3 separate regions of the Homo sapiens genome follow, and all the other regions are linked to region 2. Evidence: fine-mapped expression QTL. A gene starts in region 2. Each other region holds a variant in brackets. All regions are shown on one strand. Distances are between the middles of the regions. Region 1 overlaps D2HGDH (D-2-hydroxyglutarate dehydrogenase). Region 2 holds the start of D2HGDH (D-2-hydroxyglutarate dehydrogenase). Region 3 overlaps D2HGDH (D-2-hydroxyglutarate dehydrogenase).

Evidence for each region. PIP is the estimated chance that this variant, and not a neighbour inherited with it, causes the effect.
Region 1: its variant is fine-mapped to the expression of D2HGDH in Th2 cells (Schmiedel 2018, PIP 0.95). The same link has a PIP of 0.9 or more in Th17 cells.
Region 3: its variant is fine-mapped to the expression of D2HGDH in nucleus accumbens (GTEx, PIP 0.94).

Annotation. Positions count from the first base shown.
Region 1 is chr2:241,756,276-241,762,255 of GRCh38, forward strand. All of the region lies in intron 9 of D2HGDH (D-2-hydroxyglutarate dehydrogenase), which reads left to right. Among named protein-coding and RNA genes, the nearest start is that of GAL3ST2, 18 kb to the right of the region's middle. RefSeq lists a silencer at 4,445-4,645. The variant C/T (reference allele first, on the strand shown) is at 2,733.
Region 2 is chr2:241,732,072-241,738,051 of GRCh38, forward strand. It overlaps D2HGDH (D-2-hydroxyglutarate dehydrogenase), which reads left to right and starts at 2,559. Exons shown (of 10, transcript NM_152783.5): 1 at 2,559-2,624; 2 at 3,062-3,445. The coding sequence starts at 3,154. RefSeq lists silencers at 2,086-2,135, 2,176-3,225, 3,236-3,345 and an enhancer at 3,386-3,625.
Region 3 is chr2:241,768,686-241,774,665 of GRCh38, forward strand. It overlaps D2HGDH (D-2-hydroxyglutarate dehydrogenase), which reads left to right. Exons shown (of 10, transcript NM_152783.5): 10 at 1-126. Among named protein-coding and RNA genes, the nearest start is that of GAL3ST2, 5.1 kb to the right of the region's middle. RefSeq lists an enhancer at 2,078-2,990. The variant C/T (reference allele first, on the strand shown) is at 1,979.

The sequences.
Region 1 (5,980 bases), 24 kb after region 2:
TTCTGGGATCTTCAGTGGCATGCAGGGTTGGAGGGCATCAGCCTTAACCCCGGAGTCCGGGATGCGGGTCTCAGGGGCTCCTCTCACAGGGCCCGGCCCCGAGGCCTTTGCAGTGCTTAGCCCCCAGCTGCTCTACCCCTTCAGATGGGAGGATTTCAAAACCACGTTCAGATCATCTTTTTTCTGCAGAAAAATCATGCTTTAACGTGTAAGCTATTAATTCATAGGAAGAAAATGTTTCAATCCTATCAGTTCTTTTTTTTGAGACGCAGTTTCACTCTTGTCACCCAGGCTGGAGTGCAGTGGCGCAATCTCGGCTCACTGCAACCTCCATCTTCTGGGTTCAAGCAATTCTCCTGCCCCAGCCTCCCGAGTCTCTGGGATTACAGGCGTCCACCACCAGGCCTGGCTAATTTTTGTATTTTTAGTAGAGACAGGGTTTTGCCATGTTGGCCAGGCTGGTCTTGAACTCCTGACCTCTGGTGATCTGCCCACTTCGGCCTCTCAAAGTGCTGGGATTACAGGAGTGAGCCACCGTGCCCAGCTGTTTTCCTGTCAGTTCTTTGGAGCCTTGGAGCGAGGTGTCTAAAAGGCCAGCTTATAGGGCAGGGGTGGGGGCAGTGCTGGGGGTGTGGAGCATGGCTTTGGGGCCTGACAGATATTCACTCTGGCTTCTTCCCTGGCCTGGTGGCACTGGAGTCACTGACCTGAAGCCTCCATCCATCTGCCAGTAAATGGGATTCAGGTGCCACCTCTGTGGTTACAGGAGGGTCTAGGGTTGTGTACGTGACGACAATAACACGTATTACTTACGAAGGTCCCGTGCTGTCCCAGGCATTATTCTAAGCACTTGATGTGGAGAAACTTCTCTGCACAACAGCTTTTAGGACTGGTGGTGTTGCTTCCCTTTTACACACATGTAAACAGGTTCAGAGAATTTAAGTAACTTGCCCAAAGTTGCCCAGCCTGTGGAGGGGTACATCTGGAGGATTTGACATAGGATGGATGGTAATCTTCTGTGATAGGAAGGCAGGACTCCTGAATGGGAAGGGGGTAAGGGCATGATGAGTGTGTCATCATCCAGAGAAGAGGGGTACGGGAGCCCCAGTATTTCAGAATATGGGAAGGGGGTAAGGGCATGATGAGTGTGTCATCATCCAGAGAAGAGGGGTACGGGAGCCCCAATATTTCAGAATATGGGAAGGGGTTAAGGGCATGATGAGTGTGTCATCATCCAGAGAAGAGGGGTACGGGATCCCCAATATTTCAGAATATGACCTCAAGCCAGGAGGAGGCTTCCTCCTCTCCAGGTAACTTCAGTCTCTCTTGGCCACAGATAAAGCAGACCATCTTGGTGAGAAATGGAATGAGCCCTCTGTTACTTTGTAAAAGCAAGAATGGGCCAGGCGCAGTGGTTCATGCCTGTAATCCCAGCACTTTGGGAGGCTGAGGCGGGTGGATCACCTGAGGTCAGGAGTTCGACACCAGCCCGGCCAACATGATGAAACCTCGCCTCTACTAAAAATACAAAAAATTAACTGGGCATGGTGGCAGGCACCTGTAATCCCAGCTACTCGGGAGGCTGAAGCAGGAGAATCACTTGAACCCAGGAGGCGGAGGTTGCAGTGAGCAGAGGTTGCACCATTGCACTCCAGCCTGGGTGACAAGAGTGAAACTCCATCTCAAAAAAAAAAAAAAAAGCAAGAATGAATGTTGAATTTTTAAAATGTGTTTCCTGCATCTGTCATGGTGACCGGGTGCTTGTCTGCCTGTAATCAGTGTGGTAAGTTACACTGATTGATCCCTCTGGAGTCAGATGAGTCTGTGTTTCTGGGGTAGGCCCAAGGTGGCCATGATCCTTTCTGTATCTTGCTGGATGAGTTTGTTTATGTTTGGTGTGGGATTTTGACAGGGGTCTTGGTGGATGATTCTGTTCCACGCTGTTCCTTTCTTCTGTCCATGCTGGATTTTGGTATCAAAATCATAACATGAATATTATGCAGAACTTGCCAGTGGAGCTGTTTGGGCCTGGAGGTTTTTTTGAGGGAGTATTTTAAAATTATAGCTCAGCTTCTTCAATAGCTTTAGGACTTTCAAGCTTTCCTTTCTTCTAGATTGGTATTGCTAATTTTTTCCCATATTGGCATAAAGTTGTTCGAATATTCTTTTGTTGTCTTTTTATGTAGCATTTGTGGGATGCCCCCACACCCTTTTTTTTGGTGGGGACAGGGTCTCGCTGTCACCCAGGCTGGAGTGCAGTGGCTCACCACAGCCTCGACCTTCTGGGATCAAGCAGGCCCGCCACCTCACACACACCAGCAGGCCTGGCTAACTAAAAAAAAATTTTTTTGTAGGCCCGGTGCAGTGGTTCACGCCTATAATCTCAGTACTTCAGGAAGCCAAGGCTGGAAGGATCACTGGAGTCCAGTAGTTCTAGACCAGCCTGGGCAACACAGTGACATCTGATCTATACCGCCCCCCGCCCCACAATATATGTGTGTGTGTGTGTGTGTGTGTGTGTGTGTGTGTGTGTGTGTAGAGCCAGACTCATGTAGAGCCAGTTGTGTGGCCGGACCGGTCTTGAACTCCGGGGCCTCAAGCAAATGCTCCCTCCTTGGCCTCTCAAAGCCAGAGATTACAGGCGTGAGGTACTGTGCCTGGCATTATTTGCTGCTTGCATTATCATTCCTTCTTTGACCGATGAGTTATGCAGAAGTGTGTTTCTTAATTTC[C/T]AAACGTGGTGGTTTTCTAGTTATTTTAAAAATTATTGATTTCTTTTTTATTGCATTATACCCAGGAAACTTCGTCCTTATCAGATCAGATTTTTGAAACTTGATCAGTGGCAGCTTATGATCAGCCTTCGTAACTGTGGAGTGCTTGAAAAGAATGTGCTCTCTGCAGTTGCTGGAATCAGTGTTTGTACAGATCCATCAGATAGAAGTATACGTCGCGTGTTCATTCTACATCCTGCTGACCTGCCACTCCCTGAGGGAGGTGTTAGAAATCTGCTGACAACAGACTAATCTGTTCCTCCTGTAGCTTTGCCAGTTCTGGAGACGTGTTCTTAGGGGCATAGGACATGAGGTTCGTCTCTTTGTTTTGGGAAACTGAATCTCCTAACGCGATGGACTCGCTCTTTATCTCCAGCATTGCCCGCTGCCTTGGTGTCTGCTTTGTTTATTACACAGTGATGCTAACTTTCTTTTATTTAGTGTTTGCCTGATGTGTTGTTTTTCCTCCGGTTAGCTTCAGCTTTTCCATCCTTAGTGATTTAGATGTGTTTCTTGTGGACGCCCCCGGACAGGTTTCTTGCGTACTTGTTTGCCGTCTTGAATGAGAGCGTTTGGCTGCTGAGCACGTGCTGTGGCCCACTGTTTGGATTTGTCTACTTCACCCTGCTCTTTGTCTCTCACTTCTTGTCTATTTTTTCCTCTGTTTTTTGCTCTTCTGGTTTATGTTCTTTGTCATTTAGCTTTTTGCCGTTTACTAACTGTTGGTGGTCGCCCTGGCACCACAGTGGACATTTCTAGCCCTCTGGGTTTGAGGTTAATCAGAGTCACTATCTTCCTCCCAAATAATGTGTGATGGTGAATTCTCTGCGTCCACTTGTCTGGGCCCTGGTACCCTCGTTTGGTCAAACTCCAGTTTGGATGTTTCTGTGAAGATATTTTTTATGTGTGATTAACATTTAAATCAGTAGACGTTGAGTACAGGAGATCTCCCACCACAGTGTGGGTGGGCCTTACCCAATCAGTCGAAGGACTTCGCCACAGCGTGGGTGGGCCTTACCCAGTCGAAGGCCTTCGCCACAGCATGGGTGGGCCTTACCCAATCAGTCGAAGGACTTCGCCACAGCGTGGGTGGGCCTTACCCAATCAGTCGAAGGCCTTTGCTACAGTGTGGGTGGGCCTTACCCAATCAGTCGAAGGACTTCGCCACAGCGTGGGTGGGCCTTACCCAATCAGTCGAAGGCCTTTGCTACAGTGTGGGTGGGCCTTACCCAATCAGTCGAAGGACTTCGCCACAGCGTGGGTGGGCCTTACCCAATCAGTCGAAGGCCTTTGCTACAGTGTGGGTGGGCCTTACCCAATCAGTCGAAGGCCTTTGCCACAGCGTGGGTGGGCCTTACCCAATCAGTCGAAGGCTTTTTGCCACAGCGTGGGTGGGCCTTACGCAATCAGTTGAAGGCTTTTTGCCACAGCGTGGGTGGGCCTTACCCAGTCAAAGGCCTTTGCCACAGCGTGGGTGGGCCTTACCCAATCAGTCAAAGGCCTTTGACACAGCGTGGGTGGGCCTTGCCCAATCAGTCGAAGTCCTTCGCCACAGTGTGGGTGGGCCTTACCCAATCAGTCGAAGTCCTTTGCCACAGTGTGGGTGGGCCTTACCCAATCAGTCGAAGGACTTCGACACAGCGTGGGTGGGCCTTACCCAATCAGTCGAAGGCCACAAGAGCAGAAATCTAAGATCTCTTAAGGAAGAGAGGATTCTGACCCAGATGGAGACTCAAGCTGCAGCACCAGCTCCTGCTGGGATCTCCAGCCTGCTGACCTGGACTTCAGATTTTAGACTTAGCTCCCTCAGTCACATGAGTCAGTTCATTAAAATCAGTGTCTGTCATCTCCCTGTGTCTCAGTGTGTCTCTCCATCTTTCTCTCTCTGTTTGTTTCTCTAAATATGTATAATCTCACTCTTGCTCGCACTGTCTGTACACACACATCCTGCTGGTTCTGCCTCTCTGGGAGCCCTGATGGCTGCACAGTGCGAGGACTTCAGGGCCCCGTCACTTTGGCTGTCGTTTACCCCCCAGTTTATGGTGGCCCCTGTATTTGCGGGCTCCACATCTGCAGATTCAACCATAAAAATAACAATACAACAATAAAAAATAAACAAAAGACGATGTAGTATAACAGTGACAGACACAGCATTTCCGTCGTACCAGGAATCGTAAGTAATCTAGAGGTGATTTAAAGTATACAGGAGGGGCCGGGCACAGTGGCTCACGTCTGTAATCCCAGCAATACGGGAGGCCAAAGCGGGTGGATCACCGGAGGTCAGGAGTTCAATACCAGCCTGGCCAACATGGTGACACCCCATCTCTACTAAAAATACAAAAATTAGCCAGGCATGGTGGCGTGTGCCTGTAATCCCAGCTGCTTGGGAGGCTGAGGCAGGAGAATTGCTTGAATCTGGGAGGCGGAGGTTGCAGTGAGGCGAGGTTGTGCCACTTCACTCCAGCCTGGGCAAAAGAGCGAAACTCCGTCTCAAGAAAGAAAAGTATACAGGAGGATGTGTGTAGTTTATATGCAAATCCTATGCCATTTCCTGTCAGAGACTCGAGCATCTCAGGATTTTGATATCCGAGGGGTCCTGTATCCAGTCCCCCAGGGACACTGAGGGGCACCTGCATGCTGTTCGGTGGTGTATTCTGGTTCTGCCTTGTTCAGTCACACATAACCCTGTCACCATGTCACCATCCTGATTCTGCGTAGCCAGTTTGCACACAGCTTCTGCTTGAATCTCAGCCTCCAGAATTTTCCCTGGCATGGAAAAATAGGTGACGGAACAGCTCAGATTTTCTTTGTCTGGAAATGTACTGATTTAGTTGATAAAAATGTCTTTTCCTCAGTGGATTTCCGTGGTTCTGGGTTGACAGTTGCTTCCCAGCAGCAGGAGGGAGTCTCTGTTCTCTCTTCTGATGTCTGCTGGTGCGGAGACAGCCTCAGTTCAGGGCAGTTCCCTTCGGGGGAATGGAGGGAACAGAGGGAAATAAATAATTTCTTTCTTTTTCTTTTCCTTTTTTTTTTTTTTTTTTTTGAGATGGAGTCCCGCTCTGTCACCCAGGCTGGAGTGCAGTGGTGCGATCTTGGCTCACTGCAACGTCCGCCTCCCGGGTTCAGGCGATTCTCCTGCCTCAGCCTCCCGAGCAGCTGGGATTACAGGCGTGTGCCACCACACCCGGCTAATTTTTGCATTTTTAGTA
Region 2 (5,980 bases):
TGTAGGGACCAGCCCCACAGGGTCGGTGGGTCTCTCCCCATGTGCGGAGACGAGAGAGTACAGAAATAAAGACACAAGACAGAGATAAAAGAAAAGGCAGCTGGGCCTGGGGGACCACTACCATTAAGTTGCGGAGACCGGTAGTGGCCCCGAATGCCAGGCTGCACTGATATTTATTGGATACAAGACAAAGGGTCAGGATAAGGAGAGTGAGCCATCTCCAATGATAGGTAAGGTCATGTGGGTCACGTGTCCACTGGACAGGGGCCCTTCCCTGCCTGGCAGCCGAGGCAGAGAGAGAGAGGAGACAGAGAGACAGCTTACGCCATTATTTCTGCTTATTAGAGACTTTTAGTACTTTCACTAATTTTGCTACTGCTATCTAGAAGGCAGAGCCAGGTGTACAGGATGGAACATGAAGGCGGACTAGGAGCGTGACCACTGAAGCACAGCATCACGGGGAGACGGTTAGGCCTCCGGATAACTGCGGGCGAGCCTGACTGATGTCAGGTCCTCCACAAGAGGTGGAGGAGTACAGTCGTCTCTAAACTCCCCCGGGGAAAGGGAGACTCCCTTTTCCGGTCTGCTAAGTAGCGGGTGGTGTTTCTTGACACTTTTCGCTACCGCTAGACCACGGTCCGCTAGGTAACGGGTGTCTTCCCAGACGCTGGCGTCACCGCTAGACCAAGGAGCCCTCTGGTGGCCCTGTCTGGGCATAACAGAAGGCTCGCACTCTTCTGGTCACTCCTCACTATGTCCCCTCAGCTCCTATCTCTGTATGGCCTGGTTTTTCCTAGGTTATGATTGTAGAGCGAGGATTATTATAATATTGGAATAAAGAGTAATTGCTACCAACTAATGATTAATGATATTCATATATAATCATATCTAAGATCTATATCTGGTATAACTATTCTTATTTTATTATACTGGAACAGCTCGTGTCTTCGGTCTCTTGCCTCGGCACCTGGGTGGCTTGCCGCCCACAGTTGGTATCGAACTCCTGACCTCAGGTGATCCACCTGCCTCAGCCTCCCAAAGTGCTGGTATTATGGGCGTGAGCCACCGTGCCTGGTCAGAAAAATCAGTTATTTTAGGGGATGGTATGGGTGGTAATCTTTATGGGTTTTGAATCATTCCTAATCCCAGGGGTCCAAGATGCCACTGGCCTGCTAGTCAAAGGGAGGGCGTGTGGAGGTCAGGTGGTAAGGGGGTCCACAGACCTCATCTGTGGTCGTCTTTCCAGTTCCTGAATGTGTAATTGCAACAGTTACCCTTGACAATGGGCAAACTCCCACACTCATCTGCAGAGCAAGGGCCAGCCAGGTAGGAAGGGCCAGGTGGATGTCTCCTTTCCAGGGTTGTATGAATGATTCACCTGGGAAGAAGGTGAGTGGCCTCTGGGGATGTGGTTAAGGAGGACAGGAATGACTCCTTGCAACTGCTGCTCCAGAGCCTCATCACCAGGACAAATCCAGCTCGCCGGTTTTCTGTGTGACTACCAGGACCCATCTGCTGTCACGGGCGTAGCCTCCACCTCTTGCACAGCTCCGCAGTCCTGCCTCGGGCCAAGTGTGGTCTCCTGCTCTCTGCCCTCATCTGCTCAGAGATTGGCATCCTCTGCACCCGCTAGGGTTCTATGGAATTGGGTGAGCTGAAGTAACAAGTGCTTTGGGAGGCCGACGCGGGCGGATCGCTTGAGTCCAGGAGTTCGAGACCAGCCTGGGCAGCACATGAGACCTCATCTCTACAAAAATACAACAACAACAAAAAATTAGCCGGGTGTGGTGGTGCACGCCCGTAGTCCCAGCTACTTGGGTGGCCGAGGTGGGAGGATGGTTTGAGCTCGGGAGGCAGAGGTTGCAGTGAGCTGAGATCAACCCCAGAACTCCAGCCTGGGCAACAGAGCTAGACCCTGTCTCAAAAAAACACAAAACAAGTGCTGGCGATGCCTCAGGCAGGGGATCCCAGGCCGGGAGGCTCCTCGGGACAGCAGTTACTGCGTCAGGAGGGCAGGAGCTCCCCAGGTGTGCAAAGGGTTTGAGGGCACGGAGGGCTGAACAGGCAGAAGGGACAGGGAGGCAAGAAAACACCTGCAGGAGGCAGCTGCCCCCTAAGCTAAGGCTGGGGACCCAGGAGGGGTGGTCCGTGCAGGAGCTGGGGAGGCCGCTGGGGAAAGGGGCGCCCCCTGGGCTCGGCCTCGGAGGAGCGGGCCGGCCCCCAGGTCCCTCGGCCGAGCCCACGTCCCGGGCCTCGTTCTGGAGAACCCTCCAGCTGCTGCTTGGGCGTCTTGGGCTGCGCTCAGCCTAGTCCCTTCTCTACCTGGAGGGATGCGCCCGACAGCCGGCGCGCCGGAGGCCCTCAGGAAACGCAGGACGAGGCGGTGGCCGTCGAGCCTCCGGTGCCAGTCGGGGCGGGGCTTGGACGGCGGGGCGGGGACTGTAGGCGCGCAGGGCTGGGCCTGGAGGGCAGGCGGGGCGGGGCCCGTTAGGCGCGCGGGGCGGGGCTTCGGCCGCTGGGCGGAGCCGTCAATGCGCAGGCGCGGCGTCGCCCCGCCCACTCCGGCTCGGCGGCTCTGGGCCTGCGGCGGGCGCTGCGGGTTGGAGCTCGGGACGTGATCGTGGGTGCGTGCGCGCGGCCGCGCGGAGCGCTGGGCTGAGGGTCCCGGTCTGCGGTTCAGCCGCGGGTCGGGGTGGCGGGGCGCGATCTCGGGCGCCGTCAGCCAGTCGGTGCCTGTGGGGGGAGGGGGACGGCGCTGCAGCTCGTCACGTGACCGCGTGGAACACGCGCGCGCGTCCGCGGGATCCCCTCGGGGGGCGAGCTCGGAGGAACGGGGTCCTGGGCAAGGTCCCGGCGAGGCCGCCCCGAGCCTGCGCGTCGCTAAGTCCAGGCCTGCTGCGTGGGGCTTCGCGCGCTCGCGGGGTTGCGGCCCGGGCAGGGGGAGGGCCCGGGTGCTCGGAGCCTTCCCTTCGCTGCCCTCCTGCCCCCTCCCTGCTTCTGCAAGCGTGTTTCAATTTGTACAACGTGCATAAAACATGAAATTACCCTTGGCCACTTCCAGGCGCGCAGCCAGCGGCTCCCTGCCCTTCCCCTCCGGGCCCTGAGTACCGGCCCCCCACCAAGGAGGAGCCCGAGGTCTCCGTCCCGGCGGCGATGCTGCCCCGTCGGCCTCTGGCGTGGCCCGCGTGGCTGTTGCGGGGTGCTCCGGGAGCCGCGGGTTCTTGGGGTCGGCCGGTTGGCCCCCTGGCCCGCAGAGGCTGCTGCTCCGCCCCGGGGACCCCCGAGGTGCCGCTGACCCGGGAGCGCTACCCCGTGCGGCGCTTGCCGTTCTCCACGGTGTCTAAGCAGGACCTGGCCGCCTTTGAGCGCATCGTGCCCGGCGGGGTCGTCACGGACCCGGAAGCGCTGCAGGCTCCCAACGTGGACTGGTTGCGGACGCTGCGAGGTGGGTGAGGCTTGGGAAGCTGCGGCGTTTCCGCGTCCCTGCTCCGCTGCGCCTTCCCGTGGAGGCTTCAAAGCGGGCTGAGAACAACCTGGATGGGGGTGCCAGCCCCTGGCTGCGCTGAGAGGGGCGTGTGCACCGCCACAGGCTGCTGGAATGAATGACCACGAACGAGTCGCTTAGAACAACCCAAGTTTTGTTGTTGTTGTTGTTTTGTTTTTTCTTTTTTTTAAGACGGAGTCTCACTCTGTCGCCAGGCTGGAGTGCAGTCACGGAGTTTCACTCTGTCGCCAGGCCGGAGTGCAGTGGCGCGACGTCGGCTCACTGCCACCTCTGCCTCCCGGGTTCAAGCGATTTGCCTGCCTCAGCCTCCCTAGTAGCTGCGACTACAGGCGCCCGCCACCACGTTCCGCTAATTTTTGTATTTTTAGTAGAGACAGGGTTTCACCATGTTGGCCAGGATGGTCTCGATCTCTTGACCTCGTGATCCGTCCGCCTCGGCTTCCCAAATTGCTGGGATTACAGGCGTGAGCCACCCCGCCCTGCCAACAACCCAAGTTTGCCTGGCGCAGTGGCTCTGCCTGTAATCTCAGCTGCCCTGGAGGCTGAAGCCAGGAGTTCAAGACCAGCCTGGGCAACATAGCCAGAACCCCCGCCCCACTCACCTCTAAAAATAAAAATAAATAAATAAAAGTAGCCGGCCCAGGATTGAAAAAACAAAAAGTAAAAAAGTTACTCCAGCCCAGGAGTTCCAGTTTTAGTGGACTATGATCTCACCACTGCATTCCAGCCTGGGCAACAGAGCAAGACTACATCTCTAAAACAAAACAGAATTCCCCTCCCCACCAAACCCCACAAGTTTGTTCTCTAAGCTCTGGAGGCCAAAAGTGTGAAATCAGGGTATCACAGGGCTGCGCTCCCTCCAAAGCCTCCAGAGGAGGCTCCTTCCTGCCTCTTGTAGCTCTAGCTCCTGGTGGCCCCAGGTACCAAATTACTCCAGTCTCTGCCTCTGTTTTTCATACAGGTTTTTCTTCTCTGTGACTCTTCTCCAGTTGTCTTATAAAGACACTTCTCATTGGATTGAGGGCCCACCCTAATCCAGGATGATCGTATCTCAGTACTGTCAACTTAATTACATCTGCAAAGACCGTTTATCCGTTTTTTTTTTTTTTGGAGATGAAGTCTCACTCTTTTTGCCCAGGCTGGAGTGCAATGGTGCAATCTTGGCTCACTGCGACCTTCCCCTCCTGGGTGTAAGCAATTCAGCCTCCCAAGTAACTGGGATTACAGGTGCCCGCCACCATGCCCGGCTAATTTTTGTATTTTTAGTAGAGACGGGGTTTCACCATGTTGACCACGCTGGTCTCGAACTCCTGACTTCGGGTGATCCACTCACATTGGCCTCCCAAAGTGCTGAGATGACAGGCATGAGCCACTGCACTTAGCTGGACCGTTTTTTCTTTTTGTTTTTTTGAGACGGAGTCTCGCTCTGTTGCCCAGGCTGGAGTGCAGTGGCGTGATCTCGGCTTACTGCAAGCTCCGCCTCCTGGCTTCACGCCATTCTCCTGCCTCCGCCTCCCGAGTAGCTGGGACTACAGGCGCCCGCCACCACGCCCGGCTCATTCTTTTTGTATTTTTAGTAGAGACAGGGTTTTATCGTGTTAGCCAGGATGGTCTCAATCTCCTGACATCGTGATCCGCCTGCCTCGGCCTCCCAAAGTGCTGGGATTACAGGCATGAGCCACCATGCCCAGCCCCATTTTTTCAAATAAGGTCCCATTCACAGGTCTTGGGGCATTGGGAAGCAGACGTATCTTTTTGGAGCCCATTAGGTAAGATGCAGGGCTCCTGGCCAACAATGCCTGCTCCTCTCCTCCCACTGCACTTCTGCCCAGTGGCATACAAGTCTGTGCACGAATGAGGGACTTCTCAGCCTCTGGGGCTGGCACTTCCTTTTGGTAACAGTGCCCAGTTTTCTCTTTTTTTATTTTTTTGAGATGGAGTCTTGCCCTGTCACTCAGGGTGGAGTGCAGTGGCACGATCTCCCCTTACTGCAACCTCCACTTCCTGGGGTCAAGCGATTTTCCTGTCTCAGCCTCCTGAGTAGCTGGGACTACAGCTGGGTTACACGCCTGTAACCCAGTTCTGTGGGAGATCGCTTGAGCCCAGGAGTTCAAGACCAGCCTGAGCAACATGGTGAAACTCTATCTCTACAGAAAATTAAAAATTAGCCGGGTATGGTGGCATGTGTCTGTGTGCTAAAATAGTAAAGCGAGGTAGAAGAGAATTGGTTGACTCTTAATTTACAACAAAATGATATATTTAAACCTGTGGAACTGGCACCAGGTCCTGGGGCTGAACATAGGGTGTGCTGTCATTGGGAAGATCTGGAATTGTTTTTATCTTTTTTTTGTTGGCCCTTGTAGAAGATTGAAATTATTAAGAACACTCAGAAAGTTTCCAGACCGTGTAATCTGGGAGTGCAGCGTATGTTAAAACAGTTCAGAAAGTTAGCAAGTTGAACTGGGGTCTAGGCTC
Region 3 (5,980 bases), 37 kb after region 2:
CAAGGGCCACTGCAGAGTGTGTTTCTGCTCGTCAGCTGCCCTGGGCAGCGGATGGGCTGGGCGATGCAGCTGGATGCACATCTCATTCTGTCATGAATGTCCAGTAAAAATCTGAATTGGTTGCAACCTTCTCTTTGCTTCTGTTACTGGAAAATCATCTTTCAGAGCCCATTGTGAAGGGCCTGTGCATCCCATTCCCACAGCCCCTGGACCACTGGGGCCATAGTGTGGCCGGGCCTGACACTACTGTGACTGTCACTGTGCCTCCTGTCCCCATGCACTGTCTGGTGGCAGCTGAGCTCCCACCGGCTGCACAGGGCAGGCCTGGACATGGAACGGGCAACTCATAACCCTTGGTGGCCCTGGAGGCCCTCAGCAGCTGGGCCTGACCGAGGTGTATCCACGGGCCCCTCCTGTCCCTGTGGGTGTCGAGGACCTCGGATCCTGCTCAGAGGGGGAAACATACCTCTGACCCGCTGCCCTGCAGAGCCCGCCTGCCTAGCCAGGGCCTCTGTGTGGACAGGCCACGTCCTCCTGGTGGAGGTCCTCGGGGGATGGGTGGGGGCCTTGGTCCAGCATGATTTTTTTTTTTTGAGACAGGATCTCACTCTGTCACCCAGGCTGGAGTGCAGGGGTATAGTCACAGCTCAGTGCAGCCTCCACCTCCTGGGCTCAAGTGATCCTCCCACCTCAGCCTCCTGAGTAGCTGGGAGTACAGGTGTGAGCCATCATGCCCAGATAATTTTTTTTTTTTTTTTTGAGACAGAGTCTTGTTCTGTCACCCAGGCTGGAGTGCAGTGGTGCGATCTTGGCTCACTGCAAGTTCCGCCTCCCGGGTTCACGCCATTCTCCTTCCTCAGCCTCCCGAGTAACTGGGACTACAGGTGTCCACCACCGTGCCCGGCTAATTTTTTGTATTTTTAGTAGAGATGGGGTTTCACCTTCTTAGCCAGGATGGTCTTGATCTCCTGACCTCATGATCTGCCCGCCTCGGCCTCCCAAAGTGCTGGGATCACAGGCATGAGCCACCGCACCCGGCCATGCCCAGATAATTTTTAAATTTTTTTTTTTGTAGAGATGAGGTGTCCCTGTGTTGCCCAGGCTGGTCTTGAACTCCTGGCCTCCAGCGGCCTCCCACCTCAGCCTCCCAAAGTGCTGGGATTACAGGCCCGAGCCTCTGCGTCCAGCCGATCCAGCATGCTTTGAAGGCACAAATCAGGGGCACTTTCATGCTGGCCCAGCAGAGCCAGTGGGTCCCGCCCAATGCCTGGGCTACTTCCTGCTGTGCCTGGGGGCACCTGGGGCTGTCCTGCCTCACTGGCCAAGGCCCGGCTCTGTCCCTGGGCTCTGGCCACTGTTCTGCCATCCCAGGCTGGGTACCCATGGGCAGCCCGACAGTATCTGTTGCACAGAGCAGACCCCAGGCCCCATGGGTGCCTGACACGAAGCCCCACAGCGTGTGCCCGCGTCCCCCGAGGTCAGCCGGCGGCTCCTGCCCTTCCCTCTGACCTCTGGTTGGGGGCCGGCCATTTTTCTGCTTGTTCCTCTAGCTCTGCTACTGGGCACATGGTCCGTGCTGGGTAGGCTGCAGGCCAGGGTGAGTTGCTGACCCGCTGACCCTGGCTGTGCACCTGCCCTCCTGCCCTGGGTGGCTGCTGCTGGCCCAGGGGTGACTTGGGGGCTTTCAAGCTTCTGCCCGTGCTGGCCGCACGACCCCACGTCCCACCCTGGGTAGGGACTTGTGATTCTCAGAGCTGGGGTCCGTTGCTTTCCTAAGGACCTCCGGCCCTGGTCGTGGTCTAAATGCTCACTCCTGTTGTTGGAGAGGCCAGCCGGGTGACAGGGAAAAGCCCAGAGCCCCGGGCTTCCCGTGAGGATCTGGGCTCAGCATGGGCTGTGGGGCTGCAGAGGCCTGGCCTTGCCTGCTGAGGGACACCCGCTGGTAGTGCCTGCAGAGGGGGGAGGAGGAATTCCTCCC[C/T]CTAGTGCCCTCTGGACCCTGGGAGAGCAAGACCTCTGCATCCACACTGCCTTCCGCTGGGCCTCTGGGGACTGGGGAAGCGGACACAGTCCAGGACTGTTGGAGGAGGAAGAGGCTGCGGCTGCTCTTCCCTGGGGGTCCGGCTCCAGGAGGCTGCGGTGACCGTTGGGCCGGAGCAGGCCAGTGCCGGGCACGTCCTGCCCATGACAGCCCTGCTGCCAGCCGTGGGCACTTGTTCCTGGAGCTCCGTGGCTGGGTCCTGCCGTCTCCGCTGCTGCCCTGCCCTGCCATGTTCACCTCCAGTTTATCCAGCAATGGGGAGAGGGGCTTCTTAGATCCCCCTCAGGCTTTTCTTTTGTGCCTTTAGATATGTGAAATACAACACAGCCAGGCAAAGCAGGTGCCGGTGAGACACCTGGCTGGCCCGAGCTGGCCCGAAGAACTGCCTGTCTGCCATGAGGAAAACCCACACTGCGTGGTGGCTGGGAGGCCAGGAGTTTTCACAAGCCGGAAACCTGTTAGATTTCTCTACCTGACAGCAGGAAAATCTGATGAGACCCGATCGCATCCAGGCAGGCCGTGTTCTCGCAGCCCGCGGGTTAACACAGACTCCGAGTGACTCCGACGCAGGAGAACGCGGCGAATCTGCGTGAGGCAGGCCACCAGCCTTGGTGCCCCGGAGACAGCTCCCCCAACGGCCATGTGACGGCGTTGAGTGTCCGTGGTCAGGTGTGTGTAAGAGACGCGCAGAGAATTCCACGCCGTCCCAACCTCCCAGCCGGAGGCTCTGACGAGGCCTGCAGCCACGCGGAAAGAGCAATGAGGAGCACGTGTGTGGGGAGGAAGGCGGGTTCTGGCCCCGTTCCTTCCGCAGCAGCTCCGGCCTGGCGGGTTCTGACGGAATTCTGCAGCGGCTCCAGCCAGGGTCGTCGGGGCGGGGTGGGTGCTCAGGGGCGGCCTTTGTGTTCGGATTAGAAGCTGGTGATTGTCACATTAAGACCTCTAAGCTGCTGCAATCTGAGAAGATGTTACACAACCAGGGCCCCTGAGCTGAGGCCAAGGAGGGGGCCAGGAGAGTGGTGGGAGGGGCCCCAGGCAGGGCCAGAGCTGCCTGTGTACAGCAGGGGAGAGGGGAGAAGGGGTGGGCCGGGTGGTCTCAGCCCCAGGGAGAGTGGAGTGCCCGCCCCTCCCCTCCCCCAGGACGGCTGGCCCCTGGGAGAGCCCCTGGGGGAGCCAGTTTCCTGTAAGCAGAAGGGCAAGTGGTTGGGACCCAGAGGTGTCTGACAGTTGTGGACTTAGAGCCCAGAGGAAGGGTTTGGGGTTTGGGGCTCCTGGGACGCCGCAGGCCCCTGAGGACGTCCATCAGGATCCTGGCAGTGTGGAGGTGTAGGGTCCAGCCCTACGGGGCTTAGCGGGTGTTTTCCCTGTGTGTGGAGATGAGGGATTGTAATAAATAAAGACACAAGATAAAGAGAGAAAGAGAAAGCAGCTGGGCTCTGGGGACCACTACCATCAAGACGCGGGGACCAGTAGTGGTCCCAGAGGGCTAGGCCCACTGATATTTATTGCATACAAGACAAGGGGGCAGGGTAAGGAGGGTGAATCTTCTCAGTGATTGACAAGGTGAAGTAAGTCATGTGATTACAGGATAGGGGGCCCTTCCCTTTTAGGTAGCCGAAGCAGAGACGGAAGGCAGCAAACGTCAGCATTTTCTTCTCTGCACTTATAAGAAAGATCAAAGACTTTAAGACTTTCACTATTTGTTTTACCGCTATCTGCTACGAACTTCAAAGAGGAACCAGGAGTACAGGAGGAGTATGAAATGCAACAAAGAGTAATATTAAAAGCTAATGATTAATAATGTTTATAATAATGATTGATAATTGTCCATGATCATCTCTATATCTAATTTGTATTATGACTAATCTTATTCCAACTATTTTCTTTATTATACTGAAACAGTTTGTGCCTTCAGTCTCTTGCCTCGGCACCTAGGTACTTTCGCCCACATGGAGGCAGAGGTGACAGGCGTACAGGGCAGTGTGTCTGGACCCAGATGGCAGGCACGTTAACGACCAGTGACCAGGGCTCTGCCCACCTGGCCCGGCGCGTTGGCCCCCCAGCGATGTGGCTTCACGCCGGCTGCTTTCCTGAGCGCTCGGGGTTTAGGTCCTGTTCTGCTGCCTCTGAGCACCTGTGACCTGAAAAGGCCCTACCCTCGGCCTGGGTCCCTTGGGGTGCCACTGACCTTCTGGGACCCTGAAGCTGCCTGTGTGGTAGGCGTGTCCACCCCCACACCCACCCAAACGATGCAGAGGAGTGAAAAATGATTCCTCGAGGAGCTGGTCCAGGGCCGGGCGCGGTGGCTCACACCTGGAATCCCAGCACTTTGAGAGGCCGAGGTGGGAGGATTGCTTGAGCCCAGGAGTTTGAGAAGAGCTTGGGCACACATGGTGAGACTCTGCCTCTACAAAAAATTAAACATAGCCAGGCGTGGTGGCATGCACCTAGAGTTCCAGCTACAGGAGGCTCTTACAGGGGAGGAGGGACAAGCCTGAGCTCAGGAGGTCGAGGCTGTGGGGAGCCCCACGTGACTACACCACTGCACTCCAGCCTGGGTGACAGAGCGAGACCCTCTCTGGAAAAATAAAAAGGAGCTGGTCAGGGAGGCCGAGAGCAAATAGCTGCTAGAATGTGGCGCTGCCTGGGACGGGGAGGGCTGGGGGCCCTTGGGGTGGACCAGGAGCCTGAGTTGAGGGTTAGGGGCAGGTGGAGGGGCTGGGAAGCTCGGGGCTGTCTTAGGAGAGCCCTCCTGACACCTAGGCCCTGGGCCGGGTTCCTCCTGGTGGAACATCACAGACCTGAGCCCTCCCACTCACTTTTCCTTGGACCCCACAGGCAAGGAGCTGGGGCGGCTGTCTGCTCCCAGGCTGAGGCCCCGGGACGGGCCCCTCCTCGCTTTGTTAGCCGGTTAGACCCAGGGCGGGCGCAAGCCCTTGGCAGTGCTCCCCAGCACTGCCCCTTGGACCTCAGGGGTGTGGGGAGGACAGACCAGGGCAGGACCCAGGAGGCCACAAGGGCTGGTGGGGGTCATGGTCCTGGCAGCCCCAGTCAAAGGCTCTGCCCTCCTGCACCCACCCCCAGAGGGGGATCCTCTCGAGGGAGCATGGGCCCTGTCTCCCCACCTGCCCTTCTGGGAGATCAAGAGTTGCTGTGAAGTTTCTAGAACAGTGCCCGGCCTGGCGGACGGGCACGGAGGTGCCTCCTGGGTGTGCCCGGGTGCGGCCTGACAGGGCTGGGGTCCTGTTGGGTTGTGGGCAGGTCCTCAGACGGCCTCCTGGCTCCTGCCTCGCCCCTCCCCACAGGCCCTGTGCCAGCGGCTGTGCAAACAGAGGCCAGGAAGCGAGGTGATGCTCCCTTTGTTTCTGGCAGAGTGTGTGGCACCTGGAGCTACCTTCCGGGTTCCATGGCCCTGGGGCCCTGGGGCCCTGGGGACAGGGAGGGAATGGGATGCACAGCGGCCAGGGGTGTTCAGCGTCACCGGTGGAAGGGGTGAAACCTGTTCTTCCTGGTGGTGAGGGTTTGCCCCTTGACTCCGGAAAGCAGAGACCGTGGAGCAGGGCCCACTTCAAAGCACAGTGCTGGGGGCTGTGGCCTCGGCCCTCTGTGGACGTGGGCGGATGGGTGGCCCTGGACTGGTGAAGGACTGGCCGGGAGTTCTGTAGGGCCCCCACCTCCTGCCAGCGCCCAGCCCACAGTCGACCACTGCCTGCCCGGGGCAGGAGACTTCCTTCCTGCAGCCCCGGACCCGGGATCTGAGACCTAGAAGCTGACTCCATCCTTTGACTGCTCTGTTCTGAGCTAGGCCACCCCTGCCCCTGCCCCGAGGTGGCCCTGGGCTTGCCCGCCCGCCTGCAGTGTCGGCTGAAGAGGGTAACGTGCGTGCGCCCCGGCTGCTCCCGGCTGCTCCCGGCTGCTCCCCGGCTGCTCCCCGCTGCTCCC